Homo sapiens: one gene and its partners. The protein of the gene in region 1 interacts with the protein of each later gene in a pairwise test. Each region holds a gene or a part of one and is shown on either strand. Other genes may lie near its edges.

Region 1 (3,654 bases):
CTTACAAAATACTGTACTCTGTAGCTCCTTTGGTAAAACTCTAATCTAGGATGAATTAGGTAGATAAAGGAAGCTTTTGTCTTGCTCTTTAATAAGTTGCAGCTTGCTTTTATATGTATTCGACGAACCAGATGAAATGACCCTTTCCCTTCTGTAGCTCAAAAATGGTTGAGTATTGGCAATTTCATGTGTTTCCACCTAATAATTGTTGGCAGGTCCTCACCGCAATGTATTCAGAGTTGTGTTTTGTTACTGTTCGCAAATGTTGGGGGATCTTTCGAGATGGACTGTGTGAAAGAGGAAAGGGAAAGCATGTCAGCACATGGACTTCCCTGATCAAGGACATGCTTCTCTCTGGGGCAGAGCACTTCAGTACACGGCAAAACACTGAGGAAATTCCTCTCCTTTCAGTGTTTGGCTGATCATGTGGAATTGATGATAATCCTTTTTGATAGCTTATTCTTTTTAACCTGCATTAAAAGCGCCATTTAAAACACTGTAATTGAACAGCCCTAAAACACTGTTAGGAGTAAAAGAACAGTATTCCTGCAAGGCCTTTAGCAGCTCAAAAATACATTTTTTTAAATATCAGGGATAGTAAGAATTCCTAGTATTTTTTCCTTTCAATGTTAACCTGAAAAATGGTTGTCTTCCACAGCTTTCTTACGTAAGAAGATGTGGTAAGATGAGGAAAAAAAATATGAGAACCAGTTAACAGTTCATTATTCATCATTAAACCAATATGTAATATGTTCTTAAATTAACCACCTTTTTTTTTTTTTTTTTTTTTTTTGAGACAGAGTCTTACTCTGTCACCCAGGTTGGAGTGCAGTGGCACAATCTCGGCTCACTGCAACCTCTGCCTCCCGGATTCCAGTGATTCTCCTGCCTCAGCCTCCAGAGTAGCTGGGATTACACATGCCTGCTACCATGCCCGGCTAATTTTTGTATTTTTCATAGAGACAGGGTTTCAGCATGTTGCCCAGGCTGGTCTCGAACTCCTGACCTCAGGTGATCCACCCATCTTGGCCTTCCGAAGTGCTGGGATTACAGGCGTGAGCCACTACGCCCAGCCTAACCACTTCTATTATAATACAATCTTGTGTTTCTAATATTTTCAATGTCTAATTAATACTGTTATTTACTAGGAATGTATGGTTTCAACTTGCCCCATTTTCCCTAGGTTTGGGCATTCCATCTTCTTCTTTTTTTTTTTTTTTTTTTTGGCTTCTAAGCTTTCAAGTTATTATTTTTTCCTGATCTAGGGGTCACCAAATTATGGGCTACAGGTCAAATTTAGCCAGCTGCCTATTGTAAATAAAATTGTAAGGAGACGCAGCTACCCCAGTTATTTAAGTATTGTCTGCTCTTGTGCTACGTGGCAGAGCTGAGTTATCCCACCCAACAAGACTGTGTGGCCTGCAAAGCCTCAAATTTTACTCTCTGGCCCTTTCCAGAAAAAGTTCACCGGCCCTGTTTACCCAACGACATGCATTTCTGTTTTTTGTAGCCTTTGCCACTTTGCGTAAAGCACACTCCAGGTCTCTGCTGTTGGGAAGAGGTCTTCACCTAACTTCCGGCAGCCAGGTTTCTTGCTTCTCTTCCCTAAATTCCACACTCGCACTCTCTCTCAGTTCATTTACCCCCTGACTCAGACAGAGGGGATTGAGGTATTTCAGAAGAGGCTTTGTATTTGACAGCTCTTTCTCCCTCTCTCCTTTTTATTTTTATAGCTCCAAATGAGAAGATGAAGCAAGTGTTAAAGAAGACTATAGAAGAAGCCAAAGCAATAATATCTAAGGTTGGCTTTTTTAAATGATGCACTAAAACTTGTTGGGTTTTTTTTTTTTTTTTTGGAGATGGAATTTTGCTTTTGTTGCCCAGGCTGGAGTGCAATGGTGCGATCTCGGCTCACCACAACCTCCACCTCCTGGGTTCAAGCAATTCTCCTGCCTCAGCCTCCCGAGTAGCTGGGATTACAGGCATGCACCACCATGCCGAGCTAATTTTGTATTTTTAGTAGAGACGGGGTTTCTCCATGTTGGTCAGGCTGGTCTCGAACTCCTGACCTCAGGTGATCCGCCTGTCTTGGCCTCCCAAAGTGCTGGGATTACAGGCATGAGCCACCGCGCCCGGCCTAAAACTTGTCTTTTGAGATAAAACTCCAACTCTGGCTTCCAGAGTTGCCTCTCAGCCAGCCTTCTCTTTCAGCCTTCCGGAGGCAAAGGAAACAAGCGTATTTGGGGTAGGCTGTAGCTTTTCCTTTCATAATCCTGACGGTTGCCCAGAGGCCTCTCCGTTCCTCCAGGCAGACACAAATTTTTGTTGGCTTATGTAAATATAGGTTCACGTATAATACAAATATGTATAATACAAATGTTGATTTCATTTCTTTTACCTTTTTGAAGAACTTAACAAAGTTAAGTAGGGGAGATTTGAATATTGTGGCCATCGAGTAGCTCTCCAGACACTTGATTGACTTAATATGTATTTGATATAAATGGTTTTTTGTAATTGTCTTCAGCATTTTATACAAAGGCTAGTTTATAGAGGGAGGAGCGTAAATTTATACCATTGATATACAGATAATGTGTATCTGGAGGAAGAGAATTTAAGGCTATTGAAAGAAGTGGTATCTGTATCTGTTGCTTGTATTTGTGTGTTGGTGATATTAGTTGCTACCGCTCTCAACTGCAAGTCTCTTGACTGATCACCACTTTTTCTTCTGCTTCTCCTGGTTTGCTCAGCAGAACTGTTATTTTTAAACCAATATTTCTCAAACTTACCAAGCTTTTGACTAATCTTTGAAGAGCCTCAGCAAAGGCTGCCCTGAAGCTCTGTGCCTGTTAATATAGGAAAGGCTTTATGAAGCTCTACAGGAGAGGCCCTGGTTGAGCCCGTCGTTTGCGTGGTGATGGCATCTAGGCATGTGAGCACGTCTCAGGCCATGGCAAGAAAACAGTGGTCTGGCTGTTGTTCTGCACCCTTCTCCCCACACTTTGCTGTGGAACTCCTCTCTCGGTCGCCTCACTTCTCCCCTTTGCCTGTGTACTTCTGAAAGTACTTTTTATCCTTGGTCTTCTTCCTCTCTCAGTATCTTATCTACTCTGCCAAATGCAAATTCCACCCTCTGCAGATAACTCTGAAGCTTCCATCCTTTCCCCCTGACATCTTGCTTCACTTCCAACCTGAATTTCCAGCTGGTTGTGAGATGGTTCTATCTGAACACCCAGTCAGCACTTTGAAGTCCAGTTTTCTAGAAATGAGCTCTTTGCTTCCTCACTCCTCTCCCTCTCTGTTCTGTCCCTGAGAATCAGCACCTCCTATGAGCTTCTCTGTTTCCAGTAACAGAACCACAGTGTCTTGGTTTTATAGGGCAAATCCTCAGTGTCATCTTCAACACTTCTCCCTTCTGTCACCTCTAGGTTTGAAGTGGGGTTCTGTACCGTCTGCTCCCATGATGCCTCTTAAGTCCACCTCTTCCTTTCACTTCCACAGCTGTGGCTTTCTTTAAGGCTCTCCTGTAGCCTTTTGCATTCTGATGCCCACTGGGGGTCCTGCCAGTCAATTCAATTCCGTTCTGACACTAACTACTCAGAGACAGCACAGACCCCACAGGTCAAGGGCAGATCCTTCAATTCTGACACTAACTGC
Region 2 (3,654 bases), on another chromosome or scaffold:
GGAGTTAAATAAAAGGGAAGGCACTCTTGACAATTACAGTAGTAGCATCATTGCTTTAAATGGGAGTGATGAAGAAACTACGGGCTGGTTCCAGATGCCCACAAGTGAGAATTTGTTGTCCTCCCAAGTAACCAGTGAACCTTCAAACTTAGTTAGTTCTGCAAGTAAAAATGATGAGAGTCTATTGGAAGAAAAACTCTGTATAGATCTGTCTCTTTTACCAGATCAACAAAAAATATGTGCCAAAGATACTCCAGGACATCCTTGTATAGCTGGCAGTAGAACTGCAAATAAAGAGGTATTTTCAAAGCCATTAGAGGAGGACAAAGTTACAGGTAATGATGATTTCCTTGAGCCACTCAGAAAATCATTTAGCCAGTTTTTGCTCACTTCCCCTGAGACTTGTTCAAAGGAAAGTTTGTCAGAACCTGTGAAAATTCGCCAGGTGGAGGAAGATGGTTTAGAAAGGGGCTCTAAGAAAGATGGTCATTCCTTTTCCTTTAGTGGAAAACTAAATCTTCCATTTTTTAGAAGTCTTGGTCATTCTGAAAAGCAACAGGAGTTAAAAGAGAAAGGAAGCATTTTTCCTTTGTTTAAATTTTCTTTCACTGACAGCAAGGTTACTGTTAATGACCAGAGTTTACGTGGCTCAGCAGTAACCACTGATGAGGAGAGCAAAAAAAATTGCCATGAAGATACCAAACATAGTTCAATAAAATCTAGTTCTGTTCCAAATATTCATAGTGATCTAGGAAAATTTGACAGTACAGAGGAATTTAAAAAGAATGACCAGATAAATTGTCCTGAAGATGCCAAACTTAATTCAATAAAATCTAGTTCAGTTCCAAATATTCATGATGATCTAGAGAAGTTTGACAGTATAAAGGAATTTAATAAGAATGACCAAGTAAATTGTCCTGAAGATGCCAAACTTAGTTCAATAAAATCTGGTTCAGCTCCAAATACTCAGGATAATCTAGGGAAATTTGACAGTACAGAGGAATTTAATCAGAATGACCAAATAAATAGTCCTGAAGATGCCAAATTTAATATAATAAAGTCTGATTCAGTTACAAATATTAATAATGATCTGGGGAAATTTGGGAATATAGAGGAATTAAATCCAAGTGACCACACAGCAGGACAGAATTTTGAAAGGGATGGCTTAGCCATCCCTGGAGTTGTGCCCAAAGAACATATAACTTCAGATCCTTTAGGAGAAGATAAGAATCTTATACAAGCAGCATCTTCAGTAGCATCAGACTCTTCATTAGAGTGTATTTCTACCACTTCCAAATCCACTTTGGTTAATGAAATTAATGAAGATGAGGTTATAGATAAGACTTCCAAGAAAAATACCCAAGGAAGCTTCCTTTCTGGCCTGTTTAATAGGTTTTCTTCTGCTGAAAATTTGTCTAGTCAAGAATTAAATTTGAAAAATGATGACTCCCATCACAAGAATAATACCCCAGGTTTAATCTCTGGAATATTTAACCTGCTATCAAATAGCGGTATGATTGATCATAAACCAGAGGAAGCAAAGTTCATGTCTTTAGGCAACATGAAGAGTTTGAATGGAGATAACCATTTATCCTTGGATGAGGTCCCTGCTACTTCATGTGTGACTTCTGAGAACCCGAAGAACCATGTTGAAAAACATGAAACTTCTAGCTTCATAGAAGCCTCCTTATTACCTAAAGAAAACATACCATTATCTGATGCTGGGGATGATAATCATTATTGTTCCCCTACAGAGAAAAACCAGCAAAGTGAAAAGCATCACCCCTCCTCTGAGAACATTGTACTTCACTGTGCTCCAAGTGCTCAGCTAGGTTTTTTGGAGAAATCTATGGCTAAGAGGCAAATGCCAAACCATGTTCTTGAGGCAAAACTACATGAAAATTCAAACAAGTTAAATTCACCTGTACTAAATACCAACATTCTCAATAAATCAAACAACTATCAGGCTTTTGAAGAGATGAACAGTCCTTTCTGTTTTGAATGGGACTCTGACATAAAAGATTTGTCTAAAAATTCCAGAAAACTTCAGCCAGTTTATTATATGTTAAATCAAAATAGATTTCTATCAGCCGATGCTTGCTTGTGGCTTGACTCAGAAAACTCAGTGATAAATTTTTGCCAAAAAGATCAAAATGCAAACATCTTGGAGTGGAGAACAAATCCAAACAGTGTCATTTGGTGTGACTTACCATATGAATCATTCAATCAGTTAGCATTTAATGAAGATTACTTATTAAGAGGTGATGTGTGGGCAGCTAACTCATTATATGGAAACTCTGGTCCTCTTCCAATTAATGAGGCTAATAATTCACTAGAAGAATTACCCATTGACTTAAGTTCTTCATCAGATCATGAAAAGACTACATGCCCCGTAGTTGATCAAGAATCATTAAGAATGGATGAAAACTTTGTTTTTTCAAGTTTTGGTTATGAGTACCAGGAATGGTTGTCATGTCTTGAACATGGAGTGTGGTGGCCATCAGAGGATGGGGATTATGGATATTATATGTTTCATGATGGTCAATATATCTATTCTCTTCTCACTGATTCTACTGGGCAGTATGCATATTTATTTATACCTGATTCTTATCAAGAGTATTTGGATTGTGATTTACAGACAAATGGTCTATCAAGTATTACGTTGGATGACAGCATTATTTCTGCCTGTAGTTTTAAAGTACTTGATAAGGAAGATGAAATATTTTGGTATGTTGAAGAGGAACCAATTGATGACCCTCTTGATTTATCTTTAGCTTTGCCAAGAAGTGAGGAACCATTGTATCTAAATTTAGAAACCTTTTCACAAGTACTTAAAGAGTCAAGTTGTGACCAAAGCGATCAGCCACTAGATTTTTCAGGCTATAATCGTCAAAAGTTTAAAGGAGACTTTAGATCTTTCAAAGAAAGGCCGTGTGGTTCTGAAGACGCTGAATGTACATTAGATCTCAGAAATCAGCCCCAAACTATTAGTAATCATGTCTCAAGCAGAGATCAAATTATAGAGAGAGATAAAAACCAGCCTCTAGCTGAAGATTCATCAGTTCACCTTTCCAGTTTCCATTGGCTTCAGTCTTCTGTTGAAGAAGTTACCACTTTGGTTCATCCTGAAAATATGACTAAAGGCTCACAACAAGCAGAAGAGACATCATTAGTGAACAAAGTGGCTTCAGTATTTTCTGTTTTGGGTGCCTCAGTTGGTAGTACTTTGAAGTTTGATAAGAGTGAATCCTTAGAGGCTTTGGCCATGCAGAAAGTGAATCAGCAGTCAGATTTAGCAGAGCTCACAAATGATGGCTTTCAGTCATTAATCATGAGTAAGCAATTAGAGGGTAACTCCCCAAATGTGGAAAAAAGTCTTCTTAAGGATTCAGAAAGACAGATAGTATCCAATGTTCAGCATCCAGAATTGATCAAAAATATAAGGCAAGAATTCTCTTTAAATAAAAACAACCATGTGAAAAAGCAAAGTTTGTTAAAATCTGGTTTCCAGGTAAGCCAAACAACTCCTCAGGCTAAATCAGGTGTAAAAGATGATGAAATCATTACAACAGACTCTATTTCAGTTTCTCCTGCACCTCAGCATAGTGGGGATGAGCGTGAGAATTATGAGCTTCCCCAGGGCCAGTCATCCAA
Region 3 (3,654 bases), on another chromosome or scaffold:
TCTTAAGGCAAACTTATTTACTCATTATTTAGTTTTCTTCACCTGCAAGGCTACAGAAACTTTGGAGGAACCCACCACCTCTCCTCCAGGTTTTTAACTAATTGCTAATACAAACAAGGAAGCAGTTGAGAATCAAAATATAGTATTGATGTATTTAATCAATATTATACATCTATATACTGTGAACTGGCTTAGGTACAAGGGCTATAGCAGCTAATAAAATGGACCAGGTCCCTGCCTTCATGAAGATTAAATTTTGAGAAATAGATAATTTGGCAAACAAATAAAAACAAACTAAAATGGTGGTTGCCATACCTCCCAGCTATGAGATAAATTGGAGGATAAGAAAGAGTAACTGGGGTGGGATGAGGACACCTGCTTCAAACAGGGTGGTCAGGGGAGCTTCTGAAGAGGTGACATTTAAGCCGAGACCTGAAGGGTCAGAAGAAGAAAACAGTAAGGGGAAGAGGAAAAGAGAAGTATTCCAGGCTAAGGGAACAACAATGCAAAGGATCTGATACAGCAGAGAATGCCATGTGTTCTGGAAATCAAAAGGAAGCTGCTGTGACTAAAGTGAGGGGAAACTGGTACAGAATAAGATTAGAGATGTAGCAGCCTGCCTGTGCAGGGCTTTGTAGATGATCTAAGTGAGTTCCAAAGCATGGAGAGATTCTACTGCAGGGTTTTTAGAAAATAACCCTGTTTATAGAGATTGAACTTGAGGCATAAAGCAGGCAGTAAGTTAAAAGGTTGTTACAATAGTCTATCCAGGAGATGATAGTAACTTTGATTAGGGTGATGGTAGTGGAGATGGAAAGAAATAGATTCTGGTTCATTTAAGCATTCATTTTATTATGATGCCATGAACAATCCACACATGAATTACGTATTTTTATATATCAGATATTATTTATACTTAAAAGAGTGAGTGAAAAGTAGACATTAGAGATAGTTTTAGATAACTTTTTAGAGAGGGATTTTTTTTCCCCTACGAAGAGGGAAAGAGAAATGGAGCAGTGGCTAAAGGAAAGAATGGAGTCAAGAAAAAATACTTGTTTTATTTTTGAAATGGGAGCTGCTATGACATGTTTGAGTGCTGATAGGATTGCCTTAATGGAGAGAGAGACATTGATGTTGCAAGACAAAGACGAAGGACTAAAGTGTTTGACAGGGTTAAAGGAGATAAAATCTAGAAAGGAAAGGGGGATTTACCTTGAATAGGTACAGAGGTCACCTCCTGTGTTGTAATACTGAGAAAGGTGGAGAAGATGGGTGCACCTGCATGTCAGTTGAGGGCAGGAAGATTGAGGCCACTATTATGATAGCTGCCATAGTTTCTAAAATGTGAGGCAAGATCATTAGCTTATGGTGAGGGAAGAAAAAATTGTGAGAGAGGGAAAGTTATTTTTTATGGTAGTGGAATTCACCAGGGAAGCCATCTTGGCCTGAAGCTTTTATTGGGAAAAGTGTTTAATTATAGCCTCTATGCCTTTAGTACTTAGGACTGTTCATATTTCCTTTTTCTTTTTGTTTCAGTTTAGCAAATTATGTTTAGGGATTGTTCCGTTTAATCTAATTTTAAAATTTATTGGCATACTATCGGTTTATCATTTAAATGTTTGTATGGATCTGAAGTGATGTGCCACTTCTTATTCCTGATACTGGTTTTTTGTGTTTTCTTTATTTTGTCTTACTCAGTCTTGCTAGAGTTTATCAATCTTACTTGACTCTTTTTTTTCTTTGAGACAGGGTCTCATTCTATCACCCAGGCTGGAATGCAGTGGTGTGATCATAGCTCACTGCAGTCTCAAACTCCTGGGCTCAAGTGATCCTCCTGCCTCATCCTCCTACATAGCTGGGAGTAGAGGCACACACCACCACACCTAAGATTTTTATTTTTTGTAGAGGAAGGGGTCTCACTATGTTGACCAAGCTGTTCTCGAACTCCTGGGCTCAAGCTATCCTCCCACCTCGTCCTCCCAAATTGCTGGGATTTCAGGTGTGAGTCACCATGCCTGACATTACTTGGCTTTTAAAAACATTACTGTTTTTAGTCCTTTTTCTTGTATGTTTGAGTTTTATTACTTTCTGTTCTTTATTATTTTATTCCATTCTTAGAGCTTAATTTGTGGATCTTTTCTAACCTCTTGAATTAGGTACTTAGATCGTTGATTTTCAGCTGTTCTTCTTTTCTAATTGTTTAGGGCTATCAGAACTATATCACACTTTTTTATGTAGCATCTTCATAATTTTTGAGTGGAAAATATTTTATAATTTCTATTGTGATATCTTTTATCCTTGGGTTATTTTTAAATGTTTTTCTTAATTTTGTGCCATTTGGGAATTTTCTAGCAATCTTGTTGACTTTAATTCTACTATGGTCAGACAGGATGCTCTGAATTATGTCAGTCTTTGCAGAATTTTGTAAACATTTTGTGCTCTTGAAAAAATGTACAGCCTATAGGTAGGTATTGAGTATTGAGTACAATTTCTAGATGTGTCAGGAGATTAAGTTTGTTAATTATGTTAAAATCTGTATACTTACAGCTTATTCTATCAATTGAGAAAGATTTTTTAAAGTCTGCTAGTGAGACTATACATTTGCTTCCTATTTAGTTCATTTAATTTTTTTCTTTCTGTATTTGAAGCTGTGTTATTATGTAAATACAAAGTTATAATTGTTATCTGTATGGTAAATTGGCTTTTGTCGTTATGAAGTATCTCATTTCTTAAAAGTTTTTGCCTTAAAATCTGTTTTGTCTGATACTAATATTACTACAGCATCTTTCTTTTGGTTGTTATTTGTATAGTATATCTTTTTTCATCTGCTAACTTTCACTTTCTGTGTATTCTTGTACTTTTTGTCTTTATTTTTAAGGTAGTATATTGTTAATTTTTTATTTTTTTGAGACTGAGTTTCACTCTCGTCGCCCAGGCTGGAGTGCAATGGCGTGATCTCGGCTCACTGCAAACTCTGCCTCCCAGGTTCAAGCGATTCTACTCGCTCAGCCTCTTCAGTAGCTGGGATTACAGGCATGCACCACCATGCCCAGCTAATTTTTGTATTTTCAGTAGAGATGGGGTTTCACCATGTTGGCTAGGTTGGTCTGGATCTCTTGATCTCAGGTGATCCACCCACCTCGGCCTCCCAAAGCGCTGGGATTACAAGCAATAGCCACCACGCACAGCCTCTTCTCTTTTTTTTTTCTAAAAATATCTTCATTTGGCCTTCATTTTGGGAGGATATTTTTGGTAAGTTTGAAATTTTAGATTGGCAGTTATATTCTTTCAACATTTCAAAGGTATCATTTATTGTTTTCTGTCTTATGTACAATCTGTGGAGAAGTGAACCATCTGTCTAAACTTTTCTATAAAAGGCAGGGCAGCAATATTTTTGGCTTTGTTGGATCATAAGGACTCTCTGCTGTGACTACTCCACTCTGCCATTGTAGCACCAAGGAATCCATAGGCAACATATTAACCAAGTAATGTGGTTGTGCTCCACTAAAACTTCACTTATGGACTCTGAAATTTGAATTTCATACATTTTTAATGTCTCACATTCTTTTAATATATTTTTCAACCATTTTAAATGTAAAAATTGGCCAGGCGTGGTGACTCATGCTTGTAATCCCAGCACTTTGGTAGGCCAAG

Evidence for each region.
Region 2: the proteins of CFAP298 (region 1) and UNC13B interact in a two-hybrid assay, tested with the Homo sapiens proteins (one large-scale study listed by BioGRID and IntAct).
Region 3: the proteins of CFAP298 (region 1) and ZNF624 interact in a two-hybrid assay, tested with the Homo sapiens proteins (one large-scale study listed by BioGRID and IntAct).

Annotation. Positions count from the first base shown.
Region 1 is NC_000021.9:32,605,796-32,609,449, reverse strand, and holds part of CFAP298 (cilia- and flagella-associated protein 298), read left to right. Parts: intron 1-1,733; coding exon 1,734-1,801; intron 1,802-3,654. Other genes in the region: CFAP298-TCP10L (uncharacterized protein LOC110091775), read left to right, coding at 1,734-1,801. UniProt on the Homo sapiens protein: Plays a role in motile cilium function, possibly by acting on outer dynein arm assembly. Seems to be important for initiation rather than maintenance of cilium motility.
Region 2 is NC_000009.12:35,301,474-35,305,127, forward strand, and holds part of UNC13B (protein unc-13 homolog B), read left to right. Parts: coding exon 1-3,654. UniProt on the Homo sapiens protein: Plays a role in vesicle maturation during exocytosis as a target of the diacylglycerol second messenger pathway.
Region 3 is NC_000017.11:16,629,811-16,633,464, reverse strand, and holds part of ZNF624 (zinc finger protein 624), read left to right. Parts: intron 1-3,654. UniProt on the Homo sapiens protein: May be involved in transcriptional regulation.